Linked DNA regions of Homo sapiens: regions 2 and 3 are each linked to region 1. The links come from fine-mapping of genetic effects on gene expression. A gene starts in region 1. Each other region holds a variant in brackets. All regions are shown on one strand. Distances are between the middles of the regions. Region 1 holds the start of CTNNBIP1 (catenin beta interacting protein 1). Region 2 overlaps CTNNBIP1 (catenin beta interacting protein 1). Region 3 overlaps CTNNBIP1 (catenin beta interacting protein 1).

What was found. PIP is the estimated chance that this variant, and not a neighbour inherited with it, causes the effect.
Region 2: its variant is fine-mapped to the expression of CTNNBIP1 in spleen (GTEx, PIP above 0.99).
Region 3: its variant is fine-mapped to the expression of CTNNBIP1 in whole blood (INTERVAL, PIP above 0.99).

What each region holds. Positions count from the first base shown.
Region 1 is chr1:9,907,787-9,913,359 of GRCh38, reverse strand. It overlaps CTNNBIP1 (catenin beta interacting protein 1), which reads left to right and starts at 3,091. Exons shown (of 6, transcript NM_020248.3): 1 at 3,091-3,265. RefSeq lists enhancers at 1,150-1,822, 1,823-2,496 and silencers at 2,644-3,243, 3,254-3,313, 3,484-3,543.
Region 2 is chr1:9,873,784-9,879,356 of GRCh38, reverse strand. CTNNBIP1 (catenin beta interacting protein 1) reads left to right here. Exons shown (of 6, transcript NM_020248.3): 3 at 1,368-1,452. Among named protein-coding and RNA genes, the nearest start is that of CTNNBIP1-AS1, 28 kb to the right of the region's middle. RefSeq lists a silencer at 4,202-4,401. The variant G/A (reference allele first, on the strand shown) is at 2,374.
Region 3 is chr1:9,855,931-9,861,503 of GRCh38, reverse strand. All of the region lies in intron 5 of CTNNBIP1 (catenin beta interacting protein 1), which reads left to right. Among named protein-coding and RNA genes, the nearest start is that of CTNNBIP1-AS1, 10 kb to the right of the region's middle. RefSeq lists an enhancer at 967-1,861. The variant A/G (reference allele first, on the strand shown) is at 3,379.

The sequences.
Region 1 (5,573 bases):
AAAAAAAAGAAAGAAAAAAAAGAGAAAAAAAATAGTGTTTTTTTTCTTTTTTTGCTCCAGAAAGCAACTATTTAAAGATACATAATAGGCCAGCATGGTGGCTCACAGCTGTAGTCCCAGCACTTTGGGAGGCTGAGGCCAACAGATCACTTGAGGTCAGGAGTTCGAGACCAGCCTGGCCAACATGGTGAAGCCCCGTCTCTACTAAAAATACAAAAAATTAGCTGGGCATGGTGGCGGGTGCCTGTAATCCCAGCTACTCAGGAGGCTGAGCAGGAGAATCACTTGAATCCAGGAGGTGGAGGTTTCAGTGAGCCAAGATTGCACCACTGTGCTCCAGCCTGGGCAACAGACTGAGACCCCATCTCAAAAAAAAGAAAAAAAAGATACCTAATATATGTTCTGGGACCACACGGAGGCCCTCTCCAGAGCTGAAAGGAGAAAATATCGAACCATAAATGCAGTGAGAGAAGAGTAAGGAGGAGAAGGCTGATAGCCCTGGGGGTCGGAGGCGGGGAGTAGGAGTGGCTGGCCGGCCGATGGAAGGGAAAGTCCTGGATGGAGTATTTACACATTCAGTTTGTTCCTGCAGTAATATTTGTGGATACAGGTATTGTGCTTGGTGGCATGGTCCTTGCCCTCCTGGAGTTTATAGCCATGCTGTGGGACTAGGGCTAGCATCCATTAAGAGGTCTCCCGGAAGTAGACCAAGTATTCAGGCAGGTGAAGTGGGGAGAAATCGGAAAAGAGCCATTGAGGCCAAGGGAACAGCGCAATCAGAAGACCTGAAGCACAAAAGAGCTCCCTGTGATCAAGGAACAGGCACAAGGCCCATATGTGGCTAGAGCCCAGTTGGCAAAAGTGGTTCAAGATCAGGCTGTAGCCAGATCCTGTAAGGCCTTGTTGCCACACTAAGGACTTTGAACTTCCTCGTGAAAATGAAGAGAAGTCGTTGAATAGCGCAGGTCTGACAAGATTTTAAGAAGTTTCCTTTAGTTGCTGTGTGGGCAGTGAATGGGGGCGTAAGGAGAGCCTAAAGGAGAGACTGCTTGAAGGGTTATTGCAGGAGTCAAGGTGATAGCTGGTGGCAGGTTAAACTGGGAAAGAGGGGTAGAGATGGTAGGAGGTGGAGAGATTAAGGACACCATTTAGAATTGGAAACAACATGGACTGGAAATGAAGAATAAAGGAAAGAGTGGTGTCAACGGTACAATTTAAGTGTCTGGTGTAAGCAACTGGGTAGAGAGTGGTGCCAGTTACTGAAGGTGGGGACACTGTAGGAGAAACCCACTTGGGGACCAATTTTTTTTTTTTTTTTTTTTTCAGACAGAGTTTCGCTCTTGTTGCCCAGGCTGGAGTGCAATGGCGCAATCTCGGCTCACTGCACCCTCGCCTCCCGGGTTCAAGCGATTTTCCTGCCTCAGTCTCCTGAGTAGCTGGGATTACAGGCATGCGCCACCACGCCCGGCTAATTTTTGTATTTTTAGTAGAGACGGGGTTTCTTCATGTTGGTCAGGCTGGTCTCCAACTCCCGACCTCAGGTGATCTGTCTGCCTTGGCCTCCCAAAGTGCTGAGATTACAGGCATGAGCCACTGCGCCCGGCCGGGGACCTATTAAGTATGAAAAAGTGTGAGCAGGCCGGGTGCGGTGTCTCAGGCCTGTAATCCTAGCATTTTGGGAGGCCGAGGCGGGCAGACCACTTGGGGTCAGAAGTTGGAGACCAGCCTGGCCAACATAGAGAAAACCCGTCTCTACTAAAAATACAAAAATTAGCCGGGGCGCATGCCGGTAATCCCATCTACTCAGGAGGCTGAGGCAGGAGAATCGCTTGAACCCGGGAAGCGGAGGTTGCGGTGAGCCAAGATCGCGCCACTGCACCTGAGCCTGGGCGACAGAGCGAGACTCCCTCTCAAAAACAAAAAAACCCCCCAAATGAGTAAAGAGTAATGTGGATATTATATTATAAACGAACAAACAAAAAAGGACTTCGTATTCTTTTTGCATAGGGAAGGGGAAGAAATGTGGAGTGGAAGAGGATGGTACAGAAAAGGTGTAAAAAGAAAGGCTGTGGGAGGAGTAGGGTAGGAGGGCTTCTGAACTGGGGTTAGTGTCACACTGTGTAACTGATAATTTAAACTGCTGAAAATGAGACCACACTTAAAGATACAGGTCCCTTTAAAAGGAAGGCGGATGTTAAAAGCAATTTGCATTTTACCTAAAATGGGCTGCTTCTCCCTGTACCCTCTCCAAATACAGCCAGACTTTCTGTAGAAACATTTTAATCATGGGCACCCTTCCCCCGAAAAATCCACTCACTACCAGTACACACGACCTTCTGAGTTTAATGGACCTACGGAGGCCCATCCCTGGGCTCTCTGGGCTAGGTTAATCCCAGGTTAGGCCCCAAGCTCAGAGGTAGCAACGTTCCCAGCTCAACGACGCAGGAAGACCACGCCTCTAAATGTTCTGCAACCTCGTCCATTTCAGAATTTTCCGGGGTTCTGGGTAAACTGGCCTCACCAAGGATTCTGCCCCGTCTTGTTGCTCCCGTTTTTAAACACAGACCGGTGTGTGGGAGAGGCCATTATTTTTCCGGAACACTGTGCTCCTGGAGCAGATAGGGACACGCAGAGTGGCTTTACCGCAGCGCCAGCTTCAGCCTTACCCGGCTCCTCCTCCAGGCCACCGCCTCCTCCTCGCGCCCAACCCGCCTTCCCTGCTCACCCCCGGCCCGCTCCTCCCCTTTGCTCTCAGCGCGGACTCGGCCACTCACTACCGGCGCCGTGTTCCACCCGCCCACCGCATGGCCCCGTCCCTATGTCGCTGGTCTCGCCCCCTTCCAGGAGGGCCCAATGAGCGTTCACATGCGCCACAAGGCCCCGCCCCGCACCGCGCAGCCCCGCCCACAGGCTGAGTTAACCAATTCGCGGCCCCGGGCCCCGCCCCGCCCGCAGGCCCCGCCCCGGCGCCCGGCCCCACGCGCCCGCCTCCCTCCGGGGCGTTGCCGCCGCCGCGCCTCAGCAGCCCGCGCGGAGCCAGATGCCGCCCCCTCCGCCGGTCCCTCCCCCGGCGGCCTGGCGCCTCCCTCCCTCCCCACCGCGGTGACTCTCGGAGCGGGAGGCGGAGGCTGAGGCGGCCGCTCCTGCTGCTGCTACTGCCGCCGCCGCAGCGGCTGCTCGGGCTGAGCACGCCCCGGAACAGGCCGCCGCGCGCTGCGCGCCGGACCCGCTGCCCCTGCCGGCCCGGCCGGGTCGGGCGGCCCAGGTAAGCGCCGAGGCCGGGCCGCGCCTGCACCGCCCGGGCCCGCGCCGCGCCGCGCCGGGGCTTGGGGGAGCGGCCAGCCCTTTGTCTGCCGGGGAGGGGCCGCGGAGAGCGCCCCCGACCCCGCTCGGACCCCTGACTGCCCCAGCGGCGCGGCGCCCTGGTCTGGGCCTGGCCGCCTCTCGCCGCAGACCACCTCCCGCCTCCCTGACTCTTCGCCCGGGGGTCGCCTCCACAGGTGTCCGCGCCGCCCACCTTGTTGCTCACCTCACCGCGTCCGGGTGCCTGTCATCGCCCGTCCGCCCTCCCGACCTCTGGGCCCCTGCCTCTTCCCTCACCTGCGCCCACTCTGAGACTCTTACTCTCCATATTTCCCCAAACTAAACGCTGGGCCGCCCTTCCTCCCTCTGTAGTTTGATTGAACTGTCGTCTCCCGATTCCACCCCTCCCCGGTGAGCCTTCCTGGAAGGTACCTGGTGGGGGCACATATCTCACCTGGATGGCGGGCGTGTATGCACGAACCTGCAAAATTAACCACCTGGAGCCCCAAACTGCACCTCTCACCTCCTTTTCATCACCCCACCCCAACCACCTTCCTTTTTTTGGAACCTGGTAACCGAGACACTCAGGTCTGGACACCCAGCCTCTGCTAGGCCCTCCATCCCTCCCTCTGCCTTGTGAGCTGAACTTGTCTGAGCAGTGCCTGTTGTCAGGTTAGCCCCTGGGAAGGCGGCGGGGGCCGTGTTGGCCGCAAATCAAGAGTTTTATGAATAATGAGACGTGTGGCTTGCACCACCTCCTGTCTGAGGATCTCAGTATGCTCCAGCTGTGAATTATTTTGTCTCCTGTCACTCACAGAACTGAGAGGAACATGTCTGGCCAACTGCTGGGTAAATTGAGGTACAGGGTGTGTGGGTAAGGGACCTGGAGGCAAGTCATGGTTTGTCTTGAAGTTCTGTTCGCAGGAGCCTTGGCTCTTAGCTCCCTGCTACAACCACTGGGCTCCAGTTCCTGGAGTGTGTCCCCAAGTGATAACTGATCTCTTGTGCCATTAAAATGTCCAGAGATACCAGCAGCTTCCTCAGATTTAAAGTAGGACTTTGGATCATAAATAAAGGTGCGGGCTGTTAAATGCCAATGTGTCATTCACGGTTTGCTGGGGGAGTTCGTGGTCCTCCCTTGTAAATACAAATCACCTCTATGGGATGGAGATTCATTCATTCAGTAGTGAGCATTTACTATGTGCCAGGCACCGTTCCAAGTACTGGGGCTTTAGTGGTGAAGACAGACACGGTTTCTGCCCTCCTCAGAGATGACATTTTAAAGAGGAGGAAAGTCAGACAATAAGTGAGTAAACAAACAAGTGGACAAAATAATTTCAGTAGTGGTAAGTGCTATGAAGATGGAGAGGGGCCAGATTACATATAAGAATCTGTGGCCGGGCGCGGTGGCTCACGCTTGTAGTCCCAGCACTTTGGGAGGCCGAGGCGGGCGGATCACGAGGTTAGGAGATCGAGACCACGGTGAAACCCCATATCTACTACAAATACAAAAAATTAGCTGGGCGTGGTGGTGGGCACCTGTAGTCCCAGCTACTCGGAGAGGCTGAGGCAGGAGAATGGCGTGAACCCGGGAGGTGGAACTTGCAGTGAGCCGAGGTCACGCCACTGCACTCCAGTCTGGGCGACAGAGCGAGACTCCGTCTCAAAAAAAAAAAAAAAAAAAAAGAATCTGTGGATCAGGGCGGACTCAGTGGTTCATGCCTGTAATCCCAGCACTTTGGGAGGCCAAGGCGGGCAGATCACGAGGTCAGGAGTTCGAGACCATCCTGACCAACATGGTGAAACCCTGTCTCTACTAAAAATACAAAAATTAGCTGAGCGTGGTGGTGCATGCCTGTAGTCCCAGCTACTTGGGAGGCTGAGGCAGGAGAATTTCCTGAACCTGGGAGGCGGAGGTTGCGGTGAGCCGAGATTGCGCCACTGCACTCCAGCCTGGGCAACAGAGCAAAACTCCGTCTTGGGCGGGGGTGGAGAAAAAGAACCTGTAGATCAAAACAAAGATTTTGTAGGTCGTAATAAAGAGTTTGGATTTTATTCCAAGAACAGTTAGAGGCCATTGGAGGGTTTTAAGCAGAGAAAGAATAAAGTCTGATTTGTTCCAAAAGATTGTTCTGGCCACTGTGTAGAGACTGGATTCTAAGGAGCAAAGGTGGAGGCAGGAATACCAGTTATGAGACAGACTATTGCAGCTGCCTGGCAAGAGATGATGGTGGCTTGAGGGATCGGGGCAGTGGCAGTGGAAACGAAGA
Region 2 (5,573 bases), 34 kb after region 1:
GGTTTCCAAGCTGTCATTGGCCCCGCACCTCTCTCAGAACCAGTTTCTCAAAGTGTTGTCTGGCAGCCTTTCCCCCACTACAGGGCTGACAGCGGAGAGCCCTGTGGTAGTAGAAGAGTGGGTAGTAAAAGTGGGTGTAAAAGCACCCATTTTTTTTTTTGAGATGGAGTCTCACACTGTTCCCCAGGCTAGAGTGTAGTGGCGCGATGTCAGCTCACTGCAAACTCTGCCTCCCAGGTTCAACCGATTCTCCTGCCTCAGCCTCCCAAGTAGCTGGGATTACAGGCGCCCGCCACCACGTCCAGCTAATTTTTTGTATTTTTAGTAGATACAGGGTTTCACTATGTTGGCCAGGCTGGTCTCGAACGCCTGACCTTGTGATCCACCTGTCTCGGCCTCCCAAAGTGCTGGGATTACAGGTGTGAGCCACCGCGCCTGGCAAAATTACGCACCTTTTACAGAACGTGGTTGTCTACCGCATAATATATAACCACAGACCTGTGCCCTCACCATTTATTGGGATGATTGATACATGCCTTGGAGATGTGAGGTACTGGGTCTTGCACCCCAGCAGAGCAGGTGGTGCAGCTGGAGCGGGTGGGCAAGGCTCCCAGCGCCCCTCACAGCCTCCTGCTTCTCCTGTGTCTCCGCCCACTCGGCAATCCATGCTCTTGCTCCATTAACCTGTGCAGGTGACCTGAACGATGAGCTCCTGTGTAGGAGGCAGAAGAAAAGAAGGCAGTGTTCTGAGATTCCTGCCAGAGGTGTATTGGGGGCACGTAGACATGTGGCTAGGCTGTAGGTCTGTGAACAAGCTGCGACTGTGCTTTTCGTGTGTTTCTAGCATGTGTGTTAGTTGATGTTTAGGTGCACAACTGAAGCACACAGACACATATACATGCACTGAGCACAGAGGCTGCGGGGTGCTGAGCTACCTGTGCCTCACTTGTCATGTTAGATTTGGTAGGTGGGGCATTCTCTTGTGCAGGTGCAGAACTTGGCCATCAACTTTCCTGGAGTGATGCATTCTGGTCCACAGTGTCTCTGAACACAGCGTCTCAATTAGACTTGGTGACTAAGCCAAGGGGAGCAGGGGGTGTGGTGTTGAGCGGACTGACCTGCTTCGGCCGGAAATGCCAGGCCAGCTGAGCTGCCTTCAGCACCTTATTTATCCCAGAGGTGTGGGTGCAGGTTTCCTGGGCTTGCCAGACACACAGGTATTTCTGGACCACGGCAGAACCCAGCTCCATGAGCTTCCCGCCAGCGGTTGTGCATCCTCAGCATGGGGCGTGTGCTCCAGGCCCAGCCCTGGCAGCTGCCTGGGCCCTCCCGACTCCTCCCACAACCTGTGTTCTGTGTTTCTGCAGGGCGGCACCTTCCTACTTCTGCCCAGCCACAGCCCTCCCCTCACAGTTGAGCACCTGTTTGCCTGAAGTTAATTTCCAGAAGCAGGTAAGGCCCCCAGGGGAAGGACTCTGTAATGTGGCCATACAGTAGTGTGGGGTGGGGGGTGAGGAGTCCTATTGGACGCCAGGCTCCAGGGCTGATCATGAAGTTAGCTCATCTGTTACCTTTCACCGTGAGCCCCAATGATGCTCATTTCTCCAGATGTGTTGGGTCTTCTGGAGAATGTTAGGGTGCTGCTGATTTCTTTTAGGCTAAGACATGTACAGATTCTGGATAATATTTCATATAAGCTCTAGGAACCACCAATTCTATGGCATTGTATTTTTTTGCAATGTAAACATCATGAAAGTGTAAATTGTACATTTTTAAATGTATTAGAATCTATCACAATGTGTTTTAAAATGGACAAAACAAAAGACGAGTGCAGGGGCTGGAGGCAGCTCATGTGTCTGAAGGAGCAGCTTTGCTCCCTGGCCTCGCCTGAGCTTACTTGACATCTTCCTAGCAGGTGCAAGACCGCCCTGGGTATAAGTGAATATTCTAACATAGATAAATGTGGATGTTCAAGAGCATTAGCTTCCAGTTTAAAAATAAAAAGGAGTGCAGGTGGCTGTGTTTGTATTCAGGGCCACTCGTGCCTGTCAAAGCGAGGCCAGCTTTCAAAGCTCTTTATTAGAATGGGTTGCATTTCCCAGACAGAGACCCATACAGGGAGCCACAGCCGTCCAGCCTCCAACTGCCGCATGTGACTTTCAGCAGTCTTGTTCTCCAGGTCCCTCTTGCACTACCTCCTAATTCTTCTAAAGTGAGATCAACTGCTTAAATGCTGGAGATTACATGGTGGTCGAGATTAGGTCCCTGCAAAGGCTGGGAAGAAGTGTGGCATCTGAGCGTGCCTCTTACAGATGCCCTTGGGTGTTTCCCTGAGAACGTGTTGTGGCCTGTGGAGCCAAGGCCAGTTCTCCC[G/A]TTGTGTGGACCTTTCACAGTGGTCAGGAGCCACTTCCTCACCATCCTTTCCTGACCAGCCAAGCTTCCTTCAACAGAGAGGCAGCTCTGAACTGTGTGTGTGTGTGTGTGTGTGTGTGTGTGTGTGTGTGTGTGTGTATGTATAGCAGGAGTGTGTCTCTGTGTCTAAATTGAAGGTATGTACCTTAATGTCTTTTCATTGTATTTGCCCCAATCAGATGTCATTTTCTGGGATGGCACCCACTTTTTGCAGAATGTGTGGTTGCCTACTACATAATAAATAACCATGGACCTGTCCCTTCACCATTCATTTGGATAGTTAATAGTTGCCTGTTGTTTCTTTTCTGTTTTATTGTTTTTGTTTTTTGAAATGGAGTCTCACTCTGTCGCTCAGGTTGGAGTGCAGTGGCATGATCTTGGCTCCAGGCAACTGCCGCCTCCCAGGTCCAAGCGATTCTCCTGCCTCGGTCTCCGAGTAGCTGGGATTACAGGTGTCTGCCACCTCGCCCAGCTAATTTTTTGTATTTTTTATAGAGACTGGGTTTCACCATGTTGGCCAGGCTAGTCTCAAACTCTTAACCTCAGGTGATCTGCCCGCCTCGGCCTCCTAAAGTGCTGGGATTACAGGCATGAGCCACTGTGCCTGGCCTGTTTCTTTTCATTTTCCTTTTTTTGGCTTACCTCTGACTTGGGCAGCTAATAGAAATTTTCTTAGGATTTGGAGTGGAAGCGCCACCCCATTTTAGACGCTGGAATGTTTATGGGAATAGCCAAGAGACCATAATTGAGAACCATCATTACTTTTGGTTCTCACGTTCAAGGACTGGATGAATAATTAGTGTGTCTAATTTAGTTGCAGTTTTAGTTTATGTAATTTAAACATAGTTTAATGGAGACCAGTTTTTGATCCCTACAGGGGAAAATAAGATTTCTCAAGTGAAATGAATCTGATGCTTGTCAGAATTGTGATAAAAATATAATAGCACGTTTGCTTGTATAGGCAACAAACAGAGACATACTTTAATATACTCGTTGAGCACCATGACTGAAATGTCTGTATTGTTTGGGTTGATTATGATTTATTCTCTCCAATTATGAGTTTGCTCCACACTGACACCCTTACTGCAGAGGAGAGAATTATGTAAGCCAGTCACGGTGTTTCTGTTTGGGTTGGAATGGGAAGGGTGGGAACATGTGCTCCTGGCTGCATTTCTGCTCCAGATCCAGCCCTGAGTGTGCCCTCTTGTTAGGCAGCAGGGCGGAATCAGCTCAAACTAGAGCTGGAAGAATTCTCCATGACCACGCTTTTTAGAAAAGACAAGTCAAGGGTCTTCTCTGTAGCGAGAAGAACTGTCTCTTGCAGGGAAGTGAGTTGAAGCAGGAGTAGCCTGGCTCCAAAATGCAGGCGCAGACGACACCGCAGGCCCACAGCTGGGCAGCCCAAGCCCTAGGAATCCCAGTGTGAGGTGTCCCCGGGACGGCGAGGCTGCACCAGCCGGGAAGACGGGGCGGCACCTATCAGTGCGAGCTGTTCATAGAAGGCTTGTTGGACAGGGCAACATTCTGTAAAGCCGGCCCCATGGAGGCGGTCTGTGATGGAAGCAGTCTTTGATATGGAACTGACGCTCCTCTGGGAAGCACCTACTGTGTACCTGGACCACTGGCTCCTGGGTGGATGCGGCGGCAAAAACCAGACACCAGTCCTTCCCTGGGCAGGGGTGGCTCTCTGAATGAATAAATAGATCTTGCCCTGGGACCCGGGGCTGGAGTGTGGTTTGTGATAGTACGATTGGAATAGGGAGAGCCAGAGCAGGAGTGATCTGCTTCCCACGTCGGCTAAGGACTGGTCGGCTCGAACCGGGTGGTCTGGGGCCCTGGGAGAACCTGCTGGGGGTGGGGAGGAAGCAACGCTGGCGCTTTTGTGTTTGGCGACACCTAGTGGCCAGGTCCTTGTATTTCACCCTGTCTCTCACCAGGAGAGAGCAAATGAAAACTAGCCCTTAGGCACAGGACAGAATTGGAAGGTTTTTACTCTTGGAAGCCCTAACTCCCAGCTCAAAGGCTTTACGGAGCATTTCAGATGTTCTTTGGAGAACACAATAGCCCAAGGCCCACTACTTTGAAAGTGTGAGTCCTTTGGAAAAGCTAAATTTGGTTATGGGAGACTGGGTTAGGTACTTGGTCTCTTAACACAATGACATTTGGGCCTAGATGGGTGTGGATATTGCAGAGTGGGAGAAGCTCAGACACCACAGGCTGTTTCACTATTCCATTTAGCCAAGCGGGCAGTATTTATTAAGTGCCTGCCAAGTGCTAGTCTCCCGGAGGACAGGGGTGAGCACAGCAGAGGGGGCCCTGGCCTTGGCAGTGGGCAGTGGGCAGAGACAATAAGCAAGTTCTCCAACAGGGCACTTTCAGAAAATCAGGACAGGCGGGCATGGTGGCTCATGCCTGTTAATTCCAATATTTTGGGAGACCAAGGCAGGAGGATTGCTTGAGACCAGGAATTTGAGACCAACCTGGCTGTGCAACATAACAAGACCTCTACAAAAAAATTTAAAAGTGGCAGGGTGTTGTGGCATGCTTCTGTGGTCCCAGCTAGTTAGGAGGCTGAGGCAGGAGGATCGCTTAAGCCCAGGAGTTCAGGGCTGCAGTGAGTTCTGATCATACCACTGTACTCCTGGGCACCAGAGCAACTGCCAGGGAAGGCTTCCCTAGGAAGGTGCCTTTACACCAAGACAAAGGATGGAAAGAAGCCAGTTCCTGGCTTAGGGGACACCCAGTACAAAGGCTGCCAGAGGGAAAGAGCTTCTCCGCATGTTCTAGAACGGACGAGTGCCAGGAAGGCAGAGCAAGGGGAAGAGGAAGAAGAGACAGGCTGGAGAGGGAGGCAGGGCTGACAGCGGAGCCCTGGCAGGGTCTTGGCAAGGATTATGAGATGCATTCTCAGGTAGGTTTAAGGTAGGAGTGATATCATCTGTTTTGGGGAGGATGAGGTGGGAGGATCACTTGAGCCCAGGAGTTTGAGACCAGCCTGGGCAACATAGCAAGACCCTGTCTCTACAAAAAAATGTTTTTAAATTAGCCAAGCGTGGTGATGTGCACCTGTGGCCCTAGCTTACTCAGGAGGCTGAGTTGGGAGGATTGCTAAAGCCCAGCAGGTTGAGGCAGCAGTGAGCTATGATCGCGCCACTACACTC
Region 3 (5,573 bases), 52 kb after region 1:
GCCATCCCCATAGCAACCCAAGTGTATGCTGTCTCTGGGTAAAAGCCATCCCCTGGGGACTCTGGAGCATCAGAGCTGAGATGTATAGAACACCCAGCTCATAGTCCCGAGCTGCTGAAAATAGCACATGCCACCAGCAGGTCTTGGTTTGTGTGGGAGGAGGCCCAGTCCAGGGTGGTACCTGAGTTTTGTCCCCTTCAGAAATGCTTCCCTTTGGAGGAGCGTCTGGGTCCTGCTTTTCCAGGTAGCCTTTCCCTAGAGCTGGTAGTTCAGCCACTGCAGTTTTGGATAGCCAGGTAGCAGATGCTAGTTGGTATTAATAGCAAGATTAATGAGCTCGTGGGAGGAGGAAAAGGTACCACAACCAAAAACCATATGGTCAGAGAAGAGGATGAGACACAGAGTGGGCGTTGTCCTGGACACTTGGGAGCATGTGGTCGCATTCCCTCTCCAGCCTGGTCTGCCATGTGTGTCAAGGATGGGCCCTGGGCTTGCCAGGTGGCATTCCCTGGACAGTTGTGAAGCACTTAGCCAAAGTTAGCTCCCTCTGCTGATGGTGACTCACAAAGGGAGCTCCCCGCATCAGCCATGAGAATTTGCAGACCCTGAAGATTTCAGGTCACATTTCTGAATTTTCACGCCCCACTTTTTTACCCTCTTTAGGAGGAGTAAGGCTCCTGAGGAGTTCAGGAGGCCTCCAGGTACCTGACCCCAGAATGTCTGACACCGTCCTGGGAAGTTCTGGCCAGCAAGGAAGAGGGGTGGTGAGGATTTCAGTGGTCTTGCAGGATGATGTGGCAGAAGCTCCCTGTCCCCAGGGCACATGGTTGTGGGGAGCTGGGCCTGGAAGAATCCTGATTCTTTTTTCTTTTTTTTTTTTTTTTTGAGAGATGAAGTCTTGCTCTGTTGCCCATGCCAGAATGCAGAATGCAGTGGTGTGATCTCGGCTCACTGCAACCTCCGCCTCCCAGGTTCAAGCGACTCTCCTGCCTCAGCTTCCCAAGTAGCTGGGACTACAGGCATATGCCACTACGCCCAGCTAAGTTTTGTTTTTTTTTTTTTTTTTTTTTTTTTTAGTAGAGACGGGGTTTCACCATGTTGGCCAGGCTGGTCTTGAACTCCTGACCTCAGGTGATCCACCCGCCTCAGCATCTTAAATTGCTGGGATTACAGGCATGAGCCACCACACCCGGCCTAGAATCCTGGTTCTGAATTGGGTGATGCGGGAGTGTCCATCTGTGACTGAAGTTCCCCTTTTTCTCCAGTGACATTGTACAGGGCTGTGCCCTGCCTGGTCTGTGGAGCCTGCAGGGCCTGCGGCCTTTGGGAGTTTAGCCAGGCTTTTTTGTACCCTCATCAATTTTGGAGGAAGGACTTGTGCTCAGGTCTGTTTTCTTTCTCCCTGGCCACCTCTGAGCACCTGTGCTGAGTTGGACTTTGCAGGATCCTGGATCTGGAGAAGTTCCCTGGGGTAAGAGGTCAGCTTGTCCCTCCCACACCCAGATGCTTTGGTGAAATGAAGCCAGGACCAAGCCCTCCTCTTTGCTGTGAAAGCAGACCCCACCATGTTGGATAGTCCAGGGAGGCACCCTGGAGGTGGGAACAGGGTCTACAGATCAGGGTCACAGGCCTTTGTCTGCTACATTTCACCCATGTGGCCTGGGACCAGCCTGTTTCCAAGTTTGCAAATTAGGAGCTAGTGCAGCACTAGGCTCCGCCAGGATTTCCCCAGCCAGGTCTGTGAAATGCCCTTGCTCTGTGGATTGGCCTTGGGGCTTTAGAATCTCCATGCTCCTCTCTTTCATCCACTATTGCTGACCCAGCTATAATCCTGCAGGGCCAATAGCAGCCTGCCCTGGCAGTTCAGGAAATGCATCGAGCTGCCCAGTATATTCAGGAAAGGACCTTTGAAAGACTTCAGCTTAAGAGTCTCAAATAGCAAGAGGGATTCTCAGCAGACTTTGGGAGTTGTCAGAGGCCCCCAGGAGGCTTTCTCCAAAAGCCTGAGTAAGCCAGGCCAGGCCTAGGGTGAGTGTTGGCGGGAGCAGAGCTGGTTCCAGCATGCTGGTGGGAGTTCATCCTGAGCTCCCATTGTCTCTCTCCCGCCCCCGGCTAGGGGCCAGCTTCCCTTTTCTAAGCTCCTGCATATTTGTCATTTTTTCTCCCCAGTCAATTGACTGGACTCCACTAAAGGGGCAAAGCTGGCATTGGGCATAGGATGGGAGGGCCTGCTGGATACCCTGTCCTGGTTTAGAAAGCTGCGCCTTTGCCAGTGTCCTGGCCCTGGTTTCCAGGGCAGGTGAGCCAGGGGACTAGTGAGGTGTCTGGTAGGGCAGTAGGCAGAGATAGGGAGCAGGGCTCAGGGGAGATAGGAGTGGGGACCAGTTGGGGGCAGGGGGCCAGGGCCAGGGCTGTTCCCAGGTTGGCACTCTGGGTTCCATGTTGAATTATCTCCAAGGTGTCCCTGGGCTGCTTTGGTGGTGTTTTTAAGCCCTGGTTCTTAGTTCCATTCTGATGGAACTAAGATGGAACTAAGATGCTAGGAGGCCAGTTGAGCCTTAGTGCTGTGGGTGACTGGAGAGGTCTGTGGTTTCCTTTCTCCTTCTAGGGTGAAGGCATGGGCTTTGGAGTCTGGATCTGGGTCTTCTCTCTGCCTCTGATTCACTGAGTTGCTTTGTCTGTCTGAGTTTCAGTTTCCTCATCTGTAAAGTAAAGATTCATCCTGTGTCCCAGGTACTTGCCCAGATACTGTGACTATGTCAGTGAACAAAACAAAGTCCCTGATGACATGAGATGTACGTTCCAGTGGAGAAAGGAAGGTCAGCTCAATATAGAGCTCTGTGGGTAGCACTGAGGGTGCTGAAGACCTCATTCACCTGAAGTATTGAGACACAAGGGCCATTTTAGAAGTTGTGTTCAGGGAGGGCCTCTATGAAGTGCAAGAACCATGGGATAAACTTGGAGAAGAACATCAAGGCAACAGAAGCGGCAGGTGCAAAGGCCCTGGGGTGTAAGGACTTGTGCTTGAAGGATGGCCAGGGGCCCATGTAGCTGGCGCAGTGAGTGGTGAGAGGTGTGTTGTAAAGGGAGGCGAAGTGGCAGTCAGAGACCAGCGTGTGTGGGTCCTGCAGGCCACAGTGAGGAGGTGGGCGTTGGCCTTGAGTATGATGAGCAGTCTTGCAGTAGAAGCTTCTGGAGGGTTTTGAGCAAAGGCATGGTAGGAGCTGACTTAGGTTTCTAACAACTTCCCCCTGGCAGTTATGTGGAGAATGGACCATCAGGGGCCAGCGAGAGGAGGTCAAGGCAAGCGGGGATTCAGGAGTCCACCCACCCCCGACCAGGGTGGTGGTGGCAGAAGTGGTGATGTACTTAGCATCT[A/G]CCTTATAAGTAGCGAAGTAGAGTCAATGGGATTTGCTGATGCATTGTGTGTGGAGTTTATGTATGACAGAGGGGTTGGGAAGACCCCAGGACTTCTGACCTGAGCAACAGGAGGATGGAGGTGCCATCAGCTGAGATGGGAAAGACTGTGGAGCAGGCTTGGCAGCTGCACCACCTGACACTCCCACCAGCAATGAATGGATGAGGGTTCCAATTGCTCCACAACCTGGCCAACACTTGTTCTCATCTGTCTTTTTGATTCTAGTAGATGTGAAATGGTTTATCATAGTTTTGGATTTTTGTTGTTGTTGTTGTTATTGTTTTTGAGACGGAATCTTGGTCTGTCGTCCATGCTGGAGTGCAATGGCGTGATCTCAGCTCACTGCAGCCTCCACCTCCTGGGTTCAAGAGATTCTCTTGCCTCAGCCTCCCCAGTAGCTGGGACTACAGGAGCGCACCACCACATCTGGCTAATGTTTGTATTTTTAGTAGATACGGGGTTTCACCACGTTGGATAGGCTGGTCTCAAACTCCTGACCTCAGGTGATCTGCCCGCCTCGGCCTCCCAAAGTGCAGACAAAGTGCAGAGATTACAGGCGTGAGCCACTGTGCCTGGCCTTTTTTTTTTTTTTTTTGAGACAGGGTCTCATTCTGTCACCCAGGCTGGAGTGCAGCGGTGCTATCTCAGCTCACTACAAGCTCTGCCTCCCGGGTTCACGCCATTCTCCTGCCTCAGCCTCCCGAGTACAACAGTCCCTCCCGGGACTACAGGCGCCCGCCACCACACCCGGCTAATTTTTTGTATTTTTAGTAAAGACAGGGTTTCACCGTGTTAGCCAGGATGGTCTTGATCTCCTGACCTTGTGATCTGCCCATCTTGGCCCCCCAAAGTGCTGGGATTACAGGCGTGAGCCACCGCGCCCAGCCACCCATTTTTTTAAATTGGGGTTTTCTCCACTTTTTTATTATTGAGGGTTTTTTTTGTTTTGTTTTGTTTTGTTTTTGAGATGGCATCTCACTCTGTCACCCGGGCTGGAGTGCAGTGGCGTGATCTTGGCTCACTGCAACCTCTGCCTCCCGGGTTCAAGCGATTCTCCTGCCTCAACCTCCCGAGTAGCTGGGACTACAGGTGCCCGCCACCACACCCTGCTAATTTTTTATTTTTAGTAGAGACTGGGTTTCACCATGTTGGCCAGACTGGTCTCGAACTCCTGACCTCAGGTGATCCCCCATCTCGGCCTCTCAAAATGCTGGAATTACAGGCGTGAGCCACTGCACCCAGCCTATTACTGAGTTTTAAGAGTTCTTTATGGACTAGGCATGGTAGCTCATGCCTTTAATCCCAACACTTTGGGAGGCTGAGGCAGGTGGATCACCCAAGGTCAGGAGTTTGAGACCCGCCTGGCCAACATGGTGAAACCCCGTCTCTACTAAAAATACAAAAATTAGCCGGGCATGGTGGCTGGCGACTGTAATCCCAGGTACTCTGGAGGCTGAGGCAGGAGAATCGCTTGAATGCGGGAGGCGGAGATTGTGGTGAGATTGAGATCACGCCACTGCACTCCAGCCTGGGCAACAGAGCGAGACTCCCTCTCAAAAAAAAAAAAAAAAAGAATTTTTTACGTATTTTGCGTAATAGTCCCTTACCAGATATATGATTTGTCAACATTTTCTTTCATTCTGTGTGTTGTCTTTTCACATTCTCGATGGTGTCTTTTGAAACAGAAAAGTTTTTAATCTTGATAAAGTTCTCTTTATTTATTTATTTTTTTCTGTTGCTTGTGCTTTAGATATCATAACTAAGAAACCATTTCCTGCCAGGCGTGGAGGCTCATTCCTGTAATCCCAGTACTTTACATGGCAGAGGCAAGAGGATGGCTTGAGCCCAGGAGTTCAAGACCAGCCTGGGCAACATAGGAAGATACCCCATCTGTCAAAACAATTTTTCTTTTATTTATTTATTTCTTATTTTTTTTTTGAGACAGAGTCTCACTCTGTCGCCCAGACTAGAATGCAGTGGTGCGATCTCAGCTCACTGCAACCTCCAGCTCCTGGGTTCAAACAATTCTCGTGCCTCAGCTTCCCGAGTAGCTGGGACTACAGGCATGTGCCACCACGCCCAGCTAACTTTTTGATATTTTTAGTAGAGATGGGGTTTCACCATGTTGATCAGGCTGGTCTCAAACTCCTGACTT